4 linked regions of the Homo sapiens genome follow. Changing the gene in region 4 together with the main gene of any one other region gives a genetic interaction. Each region holds a gene or a part of one and is shown on either strand. Other genes may lie near its edges. The genes, in order: LCK, MAP2K5, NR5A1 and LTB4R.

The links.
Region 1: changes in LTB4R (region 4) and LCK together harm fitness more than expected from each alone (negative genetic interaction), as found in Homo sapiens cells (one large-scale study listed by BioGRID).
Region 2: changes in LTB4R (region 4) and MAP2K5 together harm fitness less than expected from each alone (positive genetic interaction), as found in Homo sapiens cells (one large-scale study listed by BioGRID).
Region 3: changes in LTB4R (region 4) and NR5A1 together harm fitness less than expected from each alone (positive genetic interaction), as found in Homo sapiens cells (one large-scale study listed by BioGRID).

What each region holds. Positions count from the first base shown.
Region 1 is NC_000001.11:32,254,248-32,257,810, reverse strand, and holds part of LCK (tyrosine-protein kinase Lck), read right to left. Parts: intron 1-3,563. UniProt on the Homo sapiens protein: Non-receptor tyrosine-protein kinase that plays an essential role in the selection and maturation of developing T-cells in the thymus and in the function of mature T-cells. Plays a key role in T-cell antigen receptor (TCR)-linked signal transduction pathways.
Region 2 is NC_000015.10:67,580,665-67,584,227, reverse strand, and holds part of MAP2K5 (dual specificity mitogen-activated protein kinase kinase 5), read right to left. Parts: intron 3,475-3,563; coding exon 3,405-3,474; intron 1-3,404. UniProt on the Homo sapiens protein: Acts as a scaffold for the formation of a ternary MAP3K2/MAP3K3-MAP3K5-MAPK7 signaling complex.
Region 3 is NC_000009.12:124,504,595-124,508,696, reverse strand, and holds the start of NR5A1 (steroidogenic factor 1), read left to right. Parts: upstream 1-1,297; 5' UTR 1,298-1,448; intron 1,449-4,102. UniProt on the Homo sapiens protein: Transcriptional activator. Essential for sexual differentiation and formation of the primary steroidogenic tissues. Binds to the Ad4 site found in the promoter region of steroidogenic P450 genes such as CYP11A, CYP11B and CYP21B.
Region 4 is NC_000014.9:24,314,484-24,318,581, reverse strand, and holds the end of LTB4R (leukotriene B4 receptor 1), read right to left. Parts: exon of another isoform or gene 3,562-4,098; intron 2,946-3,561; 5' UTR 2,931-2,945; coding exon 1,872-2,930; 3' UTR 546-1,871; downstream 1-545. Other genes in the region: ADCY4 (adenylate cyclase type 4), read left to right, coding at 14-166. UniProt on the Homo sapiens protein: Receptor for extracellular ATP > UTP and ADP. The activity of this receptor is mediated by G proteins which activate a phosphatidylinositol-calcium second messenger system.

The sequences.
Region 1 (3,563 bases), on a different chromosome or scaffold from region 4:
GTAGAAGTCCCCCAACCAGTAACGTGAATATACCTGATAATCCCTTTTACTGAGTCCGCTCCCTTGGGTACTTTGGTGTGCTTTTTGTATCATGGACAGTTTTATTAGGATGGAGCCTTACTTACAGCTTGGCAATCCACACTGCTTTATAAACGTTTCTGGGAGTCTGGCAGCTCTGGAAGCTCAGTTCACCATGTCCATGCCATGGCAACCCAAATTCAATCCAGGTTCTCCCAATCACTTGCTGGCAGAAGGGCACCAGGCGTGGTGGTTCACACCTATAATCCCAGCACTTTGGGAGGCTAAGGTGGGCAGACAGATACGTGAGCCCAGGAGTTTGAGACCAGCCTGGGCAACATGGCAAAACCCCGTCGGTACAAAAAAAATACAAAAATTAGCCGGACTTTGTGTCCCATGCTTGTGGTCCCAGCTACTTGGGAGGCTGAGGTGAGAGGATCACCTGAGATTGGGGAGGTCAAGGCTACAGTTAGCCAAGATTGGGCCACTACGCTCCAGCCTAGGCGACAGAGCAAGACCTTGTCTCAAAAAAACAAAAAAAACAAAAAAAAAAAAAACAAGACTTACTGGCAGAAGGTTGTTGGGCAGCTTACTAAACCTCTGCACTTCCCTCAGTTCCTTCATCAGCAAAATGATGACAAAAATAAGACTTGCATCTAAGGCTGGCTGTGGTGAGCATTATACGTGATATATAGATGATCTCATATAATAAAATGCTTAACATAGTGCTTGCTACATAGACACTGGCCTTAAACATCTTTCAGGCTAAAATGATTGATCATTTTCATTTTCCTTCATGATTTTTGGCACTTCCACGGGCTACCTTTTCACGTTTGATATATGTACCTAAAATGGAAACTTTACTACCATAAATGGAAAACCAGAATCATGAGACATAAATAGAAGTGAAACAACAGCGCACACTAAAATAAACACATAAATTAACATTCGTAAATGGTCATCCATTATCCCCTAAAATCACTTACACACCTGAGTGGTGTACAGGTCATATTTTAGGAAATGCCACACTGCAAGAGAGAACTTTGGGCTTAGGCTGCTGCTTGTGGATTAAAGGAGCTGGCCTATTGACAAAAATGTAATGGGTGAGGTAGGACGATTGCTTGAGACCATACATAGTGTGAGTGCAGCTTGGGCAAAATAGTGAGATCTTATCTCCACACACTTTTTTTTTTTAAGACAGAGTTTTGCTCTTGTTGCCCAGGCTGGAGTGCAATGGCACGATCTCGGTTCACTGCAACCTCCACTTCCCGAGTTCAAGCAATTCTCCTGTCTCAGCCTCCCAAGTAACTGGGATTACAGGCGCCTGCCACCACGCCTGGCTAATTTGTTGTATTTTTAGTAGAGACAGGGTTTCACCATGTTGGCCAGGCTGGTTTCAAACTCCTGACCTCAGATGATGCACCCACCTCACCCTCCCAAAGTGTTGGGAGTTTAGTAGAAACCCCATTTCTACTAAAAATACAAAAGTTAGCCGGGCTTGGTGGCATGTGCCTATAGTCCCAGCTACTTGGGAAGCTGAGGCAGGAGAATTGCTTGAACCCGGAGACAGAGGTTGCAGTGAGCTGAGATAGTGCCACTGCACTCCAGCCTGGGTGACAGAGCAAGACTCCATCTATAAATAACTAAATAAATAAATAAATAAATTGTATTGTTATTATTATGTTTTAATAGAGACGGGGTGTTGCTATGTTGCCCAGGCTAGTCTTGAATGCCTAGTCTCAAGAGATCTTCCTGCCTCAGCCTCCCAAAGTATTGGGATTATAGGCATGAGCCACTGTGCCTGGCCAAGAATTTTTTTATAATTAGCTGGGCATGGTGGTACACATCTGTAGTCCTAGGCTACTCAGGAAGCTGAGGTGGGAGAACCACTCAAGCCCAGGTGTGTGAAGTTACAGTGAGCTATGATCACACCATGTGCCCCAGCCGGGGCAACAGACTGAGACACTGTCTCAAAAAAAAAAAAAAAAAAAATAAATTTAATGGGTACCTCCTATGTGCCAGATTCTGACCTAGAGCTGAGGATGCAGAAGTAAGCAGACAGAGAGCGTCCCATGCATTTGGCCCTGCCCTCTGTGACAGAGGTGGGTGCCCCTCTGGTGGGTCACTTCATTTTCACAGGAGGCTATAAGGCTTGTAGTTAGCTCACTGATCAATAATATCTGTGACTGCCGACAACATGGCCGCACATGACAGCAACACTTGCCAGGAAGTAACATTTCAAAATCACCACCGTTAACCATTTACCAAGCTAACGTTTAGTGAAACAGTTAAAAGGATGAGGTATTTTGTATTGACATGTATTGACACGGAAAGACATCCCGCATACACCATGGCAAGCAAGTTGCAGAACAGAATGCAGAGTATATGCCTATTTGCATTGACATATGTATACAGGGGATTCTTTTAAATAAGCTCTGTGCTAAGCCTTTATTTGCATTATTTCATGTAATTCTCATAATAATCCTATGAAGTGCTATTATTATCCCCATTTTACAGATGCAAAGACTGAGGCCCAAACCAGGTAAAATGATTTGTCTGAGGCCTCATAACAAACAAATGAGCAGTGGAGTTGTGAAGTGAGTCCCGGTCTGCCAGCCTGCAGAGACTAGACTTAACCTCCATGTTTTTCAGCAGCCATACATGGGAAAATCTGGAAGGACACACACCAAATTTTTCACGATGGGCATATCCCAGAAGTGGGATTGGAGGAGGCTGCATTTCTTGTATTTCTTTATATGCCTCTTACTGTTTGAGTTTTAAATTTTATTTTTTTTTTAAATAATTAAATAGAGATGGGGTCTGCCTATGTTGCCCAGGCAGGTCTCAAACTCCTGGGCCCATGTGATCCTCCCATCACGGCCCCCCAAAGTGCTAGGATTACAGGTGCGAGCCACTGTGCCTGGCCTGTTTGAGTGTTTTTAAAACAGCAATGTGCTAATTTTGTAATTAGAAACAAAAACAGCCGGGCGAGGTGGCTCATGCCTGTAATCCCAGCACTTTGGGAGGCTGAGGCAGGCGGATCACCTGAGATCGGGAGTTCAAGATCAGCCTGACCAACATGGAGAAACCCCATCTCTACTAAAAACACAAAATTAGCCGGGCGTGGTGGTCCATGCCTGTAATCCCAGCTACTCGGGAGGCTGAGGCAGCAGAATCACTTGAACCAGGGAGACGGAGGTTGCAGTGAGCCAAGCTCGCACCACTGCACTCCATCCTGGGCAACAAGAGTAAAACTCTGTCTCAAAAAAACAAAAAACAAACAAACCAAAAAAACCCCACAAAACTTAGCCAGACATGGTGGCACACGCCTGTAATCCCAGTTACTGGGGAGGCTAAGGCAGGAGAATCACTGGAACCTGGGAGGTGGAGGTTTACAGACATGCACCACCATGCCTGGCTAATTTTTTGTATTTTTAGTGGAGATGGGGATTCACCATGATGGCCAGGCTGGTTTCGAACTCCTGACCTCAGGTGATCCACCTGCTTTGGCCTCCCAAAGTGCTGGGATTACAGGCGTGAGCCAC
Region 2 (3,563 bases), on a different chromosome or scaffold from region 4:
CCTCATATTTCCTAAAGTTATCGGGTCAGGAATTACTATAAAGCTAGTCAATGTTCACACTTATTAATATTTAACATATCTTTTAACAATGTAGAGGACTTAGCCATGACCTGGGAGTTACTATCCAAGGCAACTGTGCTACTTGGAATGAGGAGAACATGTTATTACATCAGAATTATGGCCAGGCATGGTGGCTCATGCCTTTCATCCCAGCACTTGGAGAAGTGGTGGTGGGAGGATTGCTTGAGCTCAGGAGTTTGACACCAGCCTGGGCAACACTGTGATACCTTGTCGCTATTAAAAAATTAAAAAAAAATGCCCAGCGTGGTGGCACATGCCTGTAGCCCCAGCTACTCAGGAGCTGAGGCGAGAGAACTGCTCCAGCCTGGGGACATAAAGGCTGCAGTGAGCACACACTGCACTCCAGCCTGGGTGATAGAGTGAGACTCTGTCTCCAAAATAAATAAATAAATAAATAAATAAGGAAACAATCATTTTCTCCTATCCTTCCTACTTGTTCAGTCTAAAGATTCTTTTTAACATGGGGCCTAACCATAAAATTTAAGATCTGAGGGCCTCTAACCAACTAGGTAGACACAGGAAATATACCCAGTATGTCTACATGTCGATTATGTAAATTTGCATAATTTCACTTATCTACATATGATAAAATGTACATTCGATGTAGACAGGTAGCAAAAAGCAAAAGACTACCAAAAACTAGAAACAATTACACCATAGCATATTAAAAAAACACAGAAATAAAAAGACAGTCTCATATTCTGAAATATTTAAATTTGGCTTAGAAAGACTATGTTTAACAATTTATTGCAGCCTAGTGGGTTTTATGCTAAGACTACATATGACAATGACATCTCATATAATTTCCTCCTTTAAGTATCCTCTCCCCATAACATACTCCTCTCCACTCCAAAACAAGCCCTCCAAACTACTCCCATGCACACTCTAATTATATTTTAATATATATGCCTTTCCATTTTAATCATATTATAATTTAAATGAAATTCTTACTCAAAGGGCATAGTAAGCACTTATAAGCTGTGTGACTCTGAAGTTACTTAACCTCTCTGAATCTCAATATTCTCATCTATAAATTGGAAACAGTAATACCTAATAGGCAGAACTATCAGGAGGATTACAGATGATGATGCGTAAAGCAATATTAATGCCTTAACAGAGCAGACATCTAAAAATGGTTGTGATTATCATGGGAAGAAGCATAATGCGATGAACAGTGAGAATGACAGGACTGCTCACAAAAGGAAAGAAAACAAACAAAACTTGAAAGAATTTGGATGAAGATAACTAAAAAAAATTTTTTAGAGACAAATGAAGACCCACAACATTGGAAGTGTGTGTGTGTGTGTGTGTGTGTGTGTGTGTTTTGAGACAATGTATTGCTCTGTCACTCAGGCTGGAGTACAGTGGCACAAACATGGCTCACTGTAGCCTCAACCTCTTGGGCTCAAGCCATCCTCCCACCTCAGCCCACCAAGTAGCTGGGACAACAGGAGTGTGCACCACGCCCGGCTAATTTTTGTATTTTTTTGGTAGAGACAGGGTTTTGACATGTTGCCCAAGCTGGTCTCAAACTCTTGAGCTCAAGCAATCCACCTGCCTCAGCTTCCCAAAGTGCTGAGATTACAGGCATGAACCACTGTGCCCTGCCTGGAAGTATATTTCTCCAGGATACTGCAATTAGGGTTTTCTATGGCAGAGCTATAATGTCAATAGAGAAATTAATGGAAATTTTCAGTTTGTAAAATACTACTCCTTGTGAAGAAAGAATTTTGAAACTTGCCCAAATTCTCCAGTCACTGCAAACATTAAGAAATAATCTGCCTCCTGGCTGGGCGTGGTGGCTCACGCCTGTAATCCCAGCACTTTGGGAGGCCGAGGGGAGTGGATCATGAGGTCAGGAGATCAAGACCATCCTGGCCAACATGGTAAAACCCTGTCTCTGCTAAAAATACAAAAATTAGCTGGGTGTGGTGACACGAGCCTGTAATCCCAGCTACTCAGGAGGCTGAGGCAGGAGAATCACTTGAACCAGGGAGTCAGAGGTTGCGGTGAGCTGAGATTGCACCACTGCACTCCAGCCTGGTGGCAGAGCGAGACTCTGTCTCGAAAAAAAAAAAAAAAAAAAAGAAATCATCTACATCCTAATCATTGGACTAATAAACAGAAATAGCAACATTTCTTTTTTTCTGTTTTGGTGCTTAATCTTCAAGTACAACAGAAGTGGATTAATCACAATCCTTGTTTTGGACTATCACTGGCCTTAAATAGCCCAACTGTACTTACTTAGCACTTCAATAAGTTACTAGTAATATACTAAGCACTCCTGATTCTGCTGCCCACACATATGCTGGAAGAGCAGTATTATTCTTGAACCCAGATCTTCTTGTGGGTTGGCCAAGACAGCTGCCTTTGGAGACTTTATCAGTGCAAATAGGAGCCTACTGGTTAATTGAGCCATTCAAACTTCAGAGAGTTACAGGTAATGAAAGTCTAGAATGTTTAATTGGAAAACTCATACCATGATTATTTGTACAGTATCAGTTAACGAAGGTAAGTTTAACTTTTAATTATTTCAATTAAGTTATTTCTAGAAGGGTTACTTAGAGAATTTCCTTATCTGTTCCATTAGTTAGAAAACATGGATTCCAAGTGGGGCAATGTATAACGGGTGAAAGACTTAATGGTTTATATAATTAAACTGTTCTTGTTCACCATTATTCAAATTTTGAGGGAACATTTATACACGGTTGAACAATCATATCTGATACAAGGATAGTACTGCCAAACCTAAAAGGGAAAAAGAAAATTATCTGACCAAGTGATTCACTGAAACTTACTCTCATCAGCTCATATTTTTGGAGATAATCAAATTTCCATTTATGAAGAATTTCAATTATTTAGAAAATACCTCCTCAAAAAACCAGATACCAAACATTCCACCAAAATTTCTCTCCTAACACCTCAGTAAATCTTCGCTTCTGTGCTAACTGAAAGCTTTCTCCTCAATAGCAGCTTTGGCCACCATCATGAGCCACAATTTATAAATATCCAGAATTAAAGTCATTCATTTGCCTTGCTTTAGAAACCATGTGGACCCCCAAAAGAGTTCTTTAAGCTAATGTAAGTATGTACTTCAAAAACAAAAAACAATCTAGTTAGTTTAATTTACTCTAGTAAATTAGATATTTTATCTGCCATAACTATAATATAGCCTGCAATCCCCACGATAATGAATACTTCTTTTGTTTTTCGAATTAAGAGCTAAACATCATGTTATGTGCATTTAAACCTTTGGAAACATAACTGTTGATGAAACAGTTTACTGAAATAATCATTGTTGATTAGAATTTGCTCAACATTACCTCTTGGAAATATCTGCAGAGGCTCTATTAACTGTCCATTTACTTGCTGTTCCATTACTGTGGAATAATACTGCAAAGAGATTATAGAAAGAGATCACTCAGTAATGTATGAATACTGGAACAGACACTTATGGGTTGTTTAATTCACAGTACTTTTGT
Region 3 (4,102 bases), on a different chromosome or scaffold from region 4:
GTGACTGGCTGGAAAACACATAGGTTTTAAATATAGTTGGCGTTTCTACTTTTTCAGTGGCCTTCCATGAAAAAATATATATAGGGAGAGTTGGCTTCACTTCACTTATCCAGAAAAGTCCCTCTTGTTCCAGATAAGTGAGGTGTTGGGTGTGATTTATTTATTTCCTCCAATGAAGGGATATGTGGGAGGAGGGGTGGTTCTCAACAGTGACTGCCCCATAGTCACCCTGTGCCCCTCCCTGCTCTCCCAAGATGAAAGGCACGGAGGTAAATCCTCTGAGGACAGAGACTTTTCTTCTCTTTCCTATGGGATCCCTGGTGCCTGGAACAGTGCCTGACCCCTAAGTGTGCGCTCAGTAAATGTGAGACAAACAGAGGAACACACAAAAGATCCAGTCACCGTGGGAGCGGCACAACACCCTGCAACCCGGGCCCTACAGGAACAGGATATTTCAGAGCCCATCTGGGCCCAGAGATTGGATGGGGACGTCCCAGGTTGTCTAGGGAGGCCTAGCCTTCTAGATAAGGGCCCCTTCCTGCTACCCTGTCCTATCCTGGACTAGCTTCATACTTGGTTCAACCTGGGGCCACTATAGCCACCACTTGGCCTCAGAGGCAGTCTCAGCCCAGCCTCAGTTTTTCCAGCCATCGACTGGGAACATCAGCAGCCCACAGCAGATGAGGACATTCAGAGGCCACCGTGGCATGCACGCACCAGGTGTCCAGGCCGCTCACCTGCTCCCCTTCCGGCCCCCCTCTTCTTCCACCTGATGGAAGAGGAAAAAGAGGTGGAAGCAGCAGGCCGCCTAGTCAAGTCGCCATGGCCTTGCCTCCGCACTGGCCTGTCCTGACTCTACTCCAATGTCCGGGCTGGGCCAGACCATGCCAGGCCAGGCCCCAGGGAGGTAGCCATTCACAAGGAGAGAGGAGCAGGCGGCAGGCCGGGTGGGGGAGCAGCCCATAAATCAAGCCCCACTCCCACCCGGTTTCTAACAAGCGGGGCTGCCTACCCGCCTCTGTGGGGTCCCTGCCTCTGGGCTCCCACAGCGGGCCTGGAACAGCCAGCTGGCCAAGGCCTCTGCAGTGCCTTGGCCTCCGCCCCCACCCTCAGCCCCCAGATAGATAGGGGTATTTTTTTTCTTTTAGGAGAAGAAGAAAAAATAGACGTAAATGAAGAGAAACACCAACAAAGAAGGCGAGAGGCCTGCAGAGTCACGTGGGGGCAGAGACCAATTGGGCCTCCGGTGGCCCCCCCACCAGGGCGGGGAGGAGGAGGAGGACGGACGGACAGGGCCAGCCTGCTGTCCGGCTGCCGCCCGCCGTGGTGTGAGGGGGTTTCTGCGCACCCACAGTCGCCACCGTCCCACCTGGGCTGCCGGAGCCTCCCCCTGGACCCCTGGTGCCCACTGCCACCCTCATCCGGTGTGAGAGCGCTGCTTCCGCTTCGTAAGTGAGGGCCTTGGCCCAGGCCTCTAATGGCCAGCCTCCTTCTGCAGTGCCTCCCTGCAGCCTGGGCCGGCCACTGCCTGCTCCACTTAGTGACCGGTGCCCCCTGCTCTGGGCAGGGAAGGTGCCAGGGGTCTCCCAGACTCACCCTCCCACCATGCTACCCCCTCTTCTTCCCTGGGCTGCCGATGGGAGGAGCCAGGCCTGTGACCACAAGCCCCATGGAGGTCCGCTGGTGTCCCGCTGTCTCTGGCCAGGCATCCACCAGGCTGTGTGGGTCTGAGCCTAGAGGTCTGTGAGTGTGTCTGGAGGGCTCTGGGCCTGTCTTGGGGCTCTGTCCCCCACCTGAGTTTCTGTGTTGTCTCTGTGGCTCTCTCTGAGTCTTGCTGTGTATCCGTGTGTCTGTCTCCGGCATCCATCTGTCAGCCTGGGTTCTGCGGCCGGGCCAGGTCTAGGCTTCCCTCCCTGGGTGGGTGGATGAGGGGCTGGAACTCCCCAGGCGGTGGGCTGGAACCTGGAACCTGTGGGGGTGGGTGCCTCGGAGCCTGGAGTGCAGAGGAGCCATGGGCTTCCAGCCGGTGAGAGTAGAAACCCTTGGGGAGAGGGGATTGGAGATAGAGGGAGAAGGGCCTGAGCCCAGCCCCCACCCAACCCCGGCGGCTGGGGCCTGTGTGTCCAGCTCCAGGTTTCCAGGAGACCTCGGGTGAGCTCTACCTTAGAACAGCCAACTGGGGCACCCCAGCCCATCATCCACCAACCCCCTTCCCTCCTGCAGTCACTGTCTGAGGGCTCCATTGTGGTGGGGAGCTGTTCAGAGGCGGCAGTGACCCCCACCTCCAGCTCGGGCAGATGCTCTTGTTTCTCAGGGGTTTGGGGGTGCGGGGGGTACGATTAACAGGGTCTCTGGCTCTTTCTTCCCTCCTCATCCAAGATTCTTGCATGGAAACCGCAGTACCCCATCTGTAAAGCCAACATGTTCCACTTTATGCTCGGAGAAAACTGAGGCTCTCGTTTCAGAGAGGAGAAGTGACTTGCCCGAGCTTGCACAGCTAGTCTGCGGGTTCTGCTCCTTCTGTGGGTGAGCCAGCTGAGTGCGGTCTGCGCGGGGGGTTCTCTGGCCACAACTTGCAGGCCCCAGGCCCAGCTCCAACCGAAGCCCGAGGCCTCCAGGCGGGCGGGAGCCCAGATGGAGCCTTTTGGTGGGTTGCGCCGCTGTCAATGCAAAATTGCGGTATTTTCCTGCTTGAAGATCGCAGCTTTTTGGCCTCATGGTCCCCAAACTCTCTCTGACCCCAGGTGCCAGCGGGGGCGGAGGCAGGATGCAAGCAGGCCCCTTCCTTTCGGGTCCGTTTCTCCAGCTGAAAAACAGTGGCCCCGCGGATGGTCCCTAGCCCAGAGCAACTGCTTGGCCCATAGGCCCGGGAACCCCTTTGTCCCCAAGACCGCCCAGCGCTTTCTTCCTCGCCCCACCCCCCCGTGAGAGCTCCGAGGGGAGCAGCGGGGCCCTGCCTCCGGGCTCCTCTCCCAGCTCCTGCGCCCGTAGAGGCTTCGGGTCCCCCCAGGCCTCGGACATTTGTAAAATGGGATTTCCACGAGTCCCATTTCCAGCCCAGCGACCTGAGGCTAGCGAGCAGAAGGGGTTCGCCCCAGATCTCCCCAGAGGGGCGCCACTGAGCGCTTCCGCCAGGCCACACGCGTGCTTTGCCCCTACTGCTTGGGTTCATCCTCACGACCCACCCTTAGCGAGGAAGAGCGGTCATCTACCCACTTCACAGATGCGGCAACTGAAGACCCGAGACGGGGAGAGAGCTGCTACAGGCTCGAGTGAGGAGATGTGGTGGGCCCCATGGGAGAATCTGGCTTCCACCCGTGAATCCGAGCCTCGGCCACGGTCGCCACTCGCCCTTACCCACTTCCACGCTGTAGTGCGACCAGCCACCCGCGTGGCATTCGCCACGACCCAGCTGGGTTCACAGACAGGAGCTGCCTCCTCCCACTGCAGGCGGGTGACCCAAGGCCCCCACTGCCCTATACCTGCCCAGATCGCGGGGCACTCGGGCTCCGCAGCTCTCTGGCCGCGCTCGGGGTCCGGGGAGCCGGGCTGCGGCTGGGGGGCCTGGAGGATGAGGGCGAAGACTCGAGCTGGACTGCGGAGAGGGTGCCGGCGCGGGCCGGGCTTGGGGGGAGGACACGACCGGGCCTCCGCCCCCGGATACCGCACGCGCCGATATAGAGGGGCCGGCCCCCGGCCCCGGCGCGGCGGGTTGGCGCAGGGCGGGGTGGCGGCTGAGGGGCCCGGGTCCCAGGTGCGCCTCGGAGCGGCCCCGGCGGCGGTGCGGGGGGGAACAGGGAGGCAGGATGGGGGGCGGGGAGGCGGGAGGGGGGAGCCGAGGCCCCCGCGCCGCCAGCCCCGCGCCCCCGCCTCCCCGTCCCCGGCCCGAGCGGCCGTCATCGCGGGCGGGCGGCGCTGCGCCCGGGTGCGGCTCCTCGCCGGCGGCGGCGGCGCGGCCGAGAGGTGCGGGCTCCGCGCGGGCGGGACGCGGGGCGCTGCTCGCAGGAGCGACCAGGTGGGCGCCGGGCCGACCGCAGCCGCCGTCGCGCCCCCTCTCGCGTCCCGGGCCCTGGCTCTTCGCGCTTCCCTCCTCCGGACTTCG
Region 4 (4,098 bases):
CCTCCAATTGTAGGTGACTGAGGAGACAGCATGGGCCCTACAGTCCCTGGGCTACACCTGCTACAGCCGGGGTGTCATCAAGGTGAAAGGCAAAGGGCAGCTCTGCACCTACTTCCTGAACACAGACTTGACACGAACTGGACCTCCTTCAGCTACCCTAGGCTGAGATTGCACTCGCCTTCTAAGAACCTCAATAAAGAGACTCTGGGGTGTCTGGAGCCCATTGATGTCTGAAGCTGCTGATATAGCTGGGGATCACCTTCTCATTGCCCTTCAGTGGGAATTCTTCTTCTTCCCAGGCCAATTTTAGTGCGAGTGTGTGTGTGAATGTGTGTGCACATGCCTGCACACATGCATGCATGTGAGACTAAGCATTTTGAAAGGGAGTGATTTTTTTCACAAGCTCAGGAAGAGAACTCCCTCAGCCTCTCTGCCAACTTGATTATAGTATTTTGTACACCTTGGAAGCATAAAGAATTTAGCCACATGACTCAAAACAAAAATTTGCCCTTTCCTGCCCCCTACTCAAAAATACCGGAAGAATCTCCAGGGAAATGTCATTTGAACTTTATTAATTCGACAAACACTAAATAAGTACCTATTATGTGCTCACCATACAGAATGGGCGAGAGGACTGGGAAATACTCCGTTAGGTCCCTCCCAGTTTCAGCTGCTGTTCTCAAATTGGTGCACCATACCTTCCAGTAAGGATCTGTAGACAGCTTGGGGATCTCCTCTTCTTAGGTCCATCCAACATCCCTTTGCTTCCTTCTGCATCCTTCTGCACAGATGCTGGTATATGGGTCTTGAGATATTGATGACTCATTCTCACTGGCTCATACTTTGGGGTCCATGGGAGTATGTCAAACCTTGACATACTAGATTTGTTGCGGATGTTGCATGTGGATATTTGGTTTCCCTCTCTTACTTGCTCTTTTGTTTTTTTATGAGAAAGATCCAAAAAGTACACTGCTGCCACTGTTGTTGCCATCTTCCTAAAACCTTGTCAGAACAGAGTTGGACCAAGGTTCTCTAAAACAACAGTCATCTCTAGGAAATAATGACTCATCCCTCTCACTTTTGGGAATCTTTGTTTCCTGGGGCCCTCAGCCCCACCCTGTGCCAGGGTGTGTTGTGGAGGTTAGCAGATGCTGATATGCAAAATTCTAAGGGATAAGATCTAATGACTTAGTCCTCAAGTCTGGCCTCTTTGTGAAATGGAGGGAAGGAAGGCATCCCCTAGAACATCTCCTATGGAGAGGACAAAGATTATTGGCAGGAAGTTGGAGTCATTCTAACAAGGAGACTTATCACAGGCTTCAAGGAAGATATTTCACAGCAGTGCTGTTTTCTCAGAAGGTCCCGGGTCACAGAACCTGGAGTGATAAGCCCACATGGGTGGTCTTCCTAGACAAGCTGCTTTAGGAGTCTGTAGACTGCGTTTTGCTAAGTATTATCTGCAGACTATGTACTCGGAATCATCTGGGATGGGGGAAGTCTATGTTTCTTTGTGTCCCTTCCAAAATTGTAAATCATGGGGAACTAAAGGACGTGACTCTCAACTACCGAGAGGGGCCCCACCAGGGCGCCCACGAGCACCCCGATACCCACAGCACATGTACCCCACTCACAAGGTTGACCAAATTTCAGACTTCAGTTTTAATGGTTAAAGCTGCCTGTGGGAGCCAGGCTGGAGCACGCTCTCACTCGGCCCTCACTTTGCTCCACCTCTCCCTCTTCTTCCACTCCACTCCCGCCTCCCACGCTCCCACGCCCTCCACGCCCTCCACGCCCCTGCTCCTCCTCCAGGTACTGAACTGGCTCAGAGCTAGCATTCTGCCAGGAGGAAAGTGCGCCTCCTTCCACCAGGCCTAGTTCAGTTCGTTTAACTTGAGAGGGCTGGAGGCAGTGAGGCTCTCGGAAGGGCCGGGCTCCAGAGCGGCGGGGCCGCTCCTAGCGGTCTGGCCCAGGCTGCCCCCGCGGCGCGTGCTGGACGCCTCGGAGCCCGTGCCCTCCAGCAGCTTGGCGACGAAGCCCACGCCCGCCGAGCGCAGCAGGCCGCCGCCGGCGCACGCGTACAGCACGGGGTTCACGCTGCTGCTCAGGAAGGCGAGTGCGATGAGCACGTTGCGGGCCAGGCTCAGCCGCTTCCCCACGAGCCCTAACCCGGCGGCCTGGCCGGCCAGCGCGCGGCCCGCCTCAGCCAGGTTCACCACGTGGTAGGGCAGCCAGAAGGCGGCGAAGGTCAGGATGATGAGCACCACCAGGCGGCCGGTGCGGCGGCTGCGGCGGAAGCGCCGGGCCTGTAGCCGACGCCCTATGTCCGAGTAGCTGGCCACCACAGCCAGGAAGGGCAGCAGGAAGCCCGTGACAGCCTCGAAGATTAGATGGAAGGCCCGGTGCCCTTCGCTGGGGTACCGCGGGAAGCACAGGCTCATGTTCGTTTTCCAGGGCACTACTGTGCGGTACGCGAGGACGGGTGTGGCCAGCAGAAAGGACAACACCCAGATGCCTGCCAGCACCCGCCGGGCCATCGCCTTGGTGCGTAGCTTCTGGGACACAAAGGGGCGGGCCACCGCCAGTGAGCGGTCTAGACTCATGGCCGTGATAAGCAGGACGCTGGCGTACATGCTGACTCCGCAGACATAGTGACACAGGCGGCAACCAGCCAGTCCAAAACTCCAGGTGCCTTGGGCCAGGAAGTGAAGGAAAAAGGGAGCAGTGAGCAATACGGCCAGGTCGGCCAGGGCCAGGTTCAGCACCATCAGGGCAGTGACAGAGCGCTTCTGCATCCTTTTCAGGATACTCCACACCACAAAGCTGTTGCCGGGAAGCCCCACAGCCAGCGCCACTGACAGCAGGATGATAGCCAGCAGAGAGATGAACTCTACACCTAGTGAGGGGGGTGCTGCAGAAGATGTAGTGTTCATGGCCGTCGGGAGGACCTGGAGAGTGAGGGCGGACACACGCATGAGAGTAGAGGACCAAGGGTTTCCTGACGCCATGGACACACCTAGGCTGAGAACTCTAGTCTATCTCCAGGGTCAGCAGCATCAGAGGTCCCCCTGAAATATACTGCCCCCATCGCTGCAGACTGACAACTTAAAGGGATCTGGTTGAGTACAAAGACTAGTTTCCTAACTGGGTCATGCGGCCCCTTCCTGTCCACAGACCCAATTGCAAAATATACAGTGACCACAGCAGCAGCAGCATTTCCAGACCTTTTCAGTCTCCTCCCCTTAGGAGACCCTAAAGCCCAGAACCAAACAGAGTTCCTACCAATGCTGCACCCCTTGAAAGGCCAGTCTTTTTGCCCCCTGCCAGGCCCTCAGCCCCTCAATCCCATTAACTTTCCCAATCACCTGCCTACTGTCCCCAGAGATGCCCAGGGTCAACCAGGAATAACAGGGAGGGGAGGAGTTTAGTGGACAAGTGACAAGGACAAAGCCTCCCAACTTTTTACGCTGGTCAGGCTTTCTTTGGAGATTCCTTTGCACCTTCTTTCATGGCTGCACACTGTCCCACCACCACCACAACCACGGCCGCTCCCAGGAAACTTACTTACAAGCTTTGGCAGGAACTGGTTGGAAGCTGATGCCAATCCCAGGGTCAGGGCAGGGTGGTGTAGCCTATCCCTGGATCTGTCCCACTGCCAAAGGCCTGGCCCCAGGTCTAGGTGCTGTTTGCTAAATCAGCCAGAGAGGAAGTACCACAGAGCAGAGGACAGGGAAGACGCATCTTCCTGAGGGTGGGGCTGAAACCCCTACCCACTCCCTTCACTAGGAGGGGGGATAGTCTGTTTTCCAGGGCAACCCAGAAGGCAGGAGGACTCCTTAGAGGTGGGGCCAGATGAGAAGAGACCAGGAAGGAGCAGTGAGAGAGGAAAGAGGGGTGTGGGGAGTGAGAAGGCTGGGTGTGGCCTCAAGATGCAGGTCTAGACTGGATAATTGAACAAAGTAGTGAATGGTATCATATAGGAGAAGGAGGTATGGTAGCCAGAGAAGGGAAATGGGCTCAGATTGGAGGCTACAATGCTGATATCTTTTTGTTTTGTTTTGCTTTGTTTTAAGATTAATAGGAAGTGTAGGTTGGAGCTGT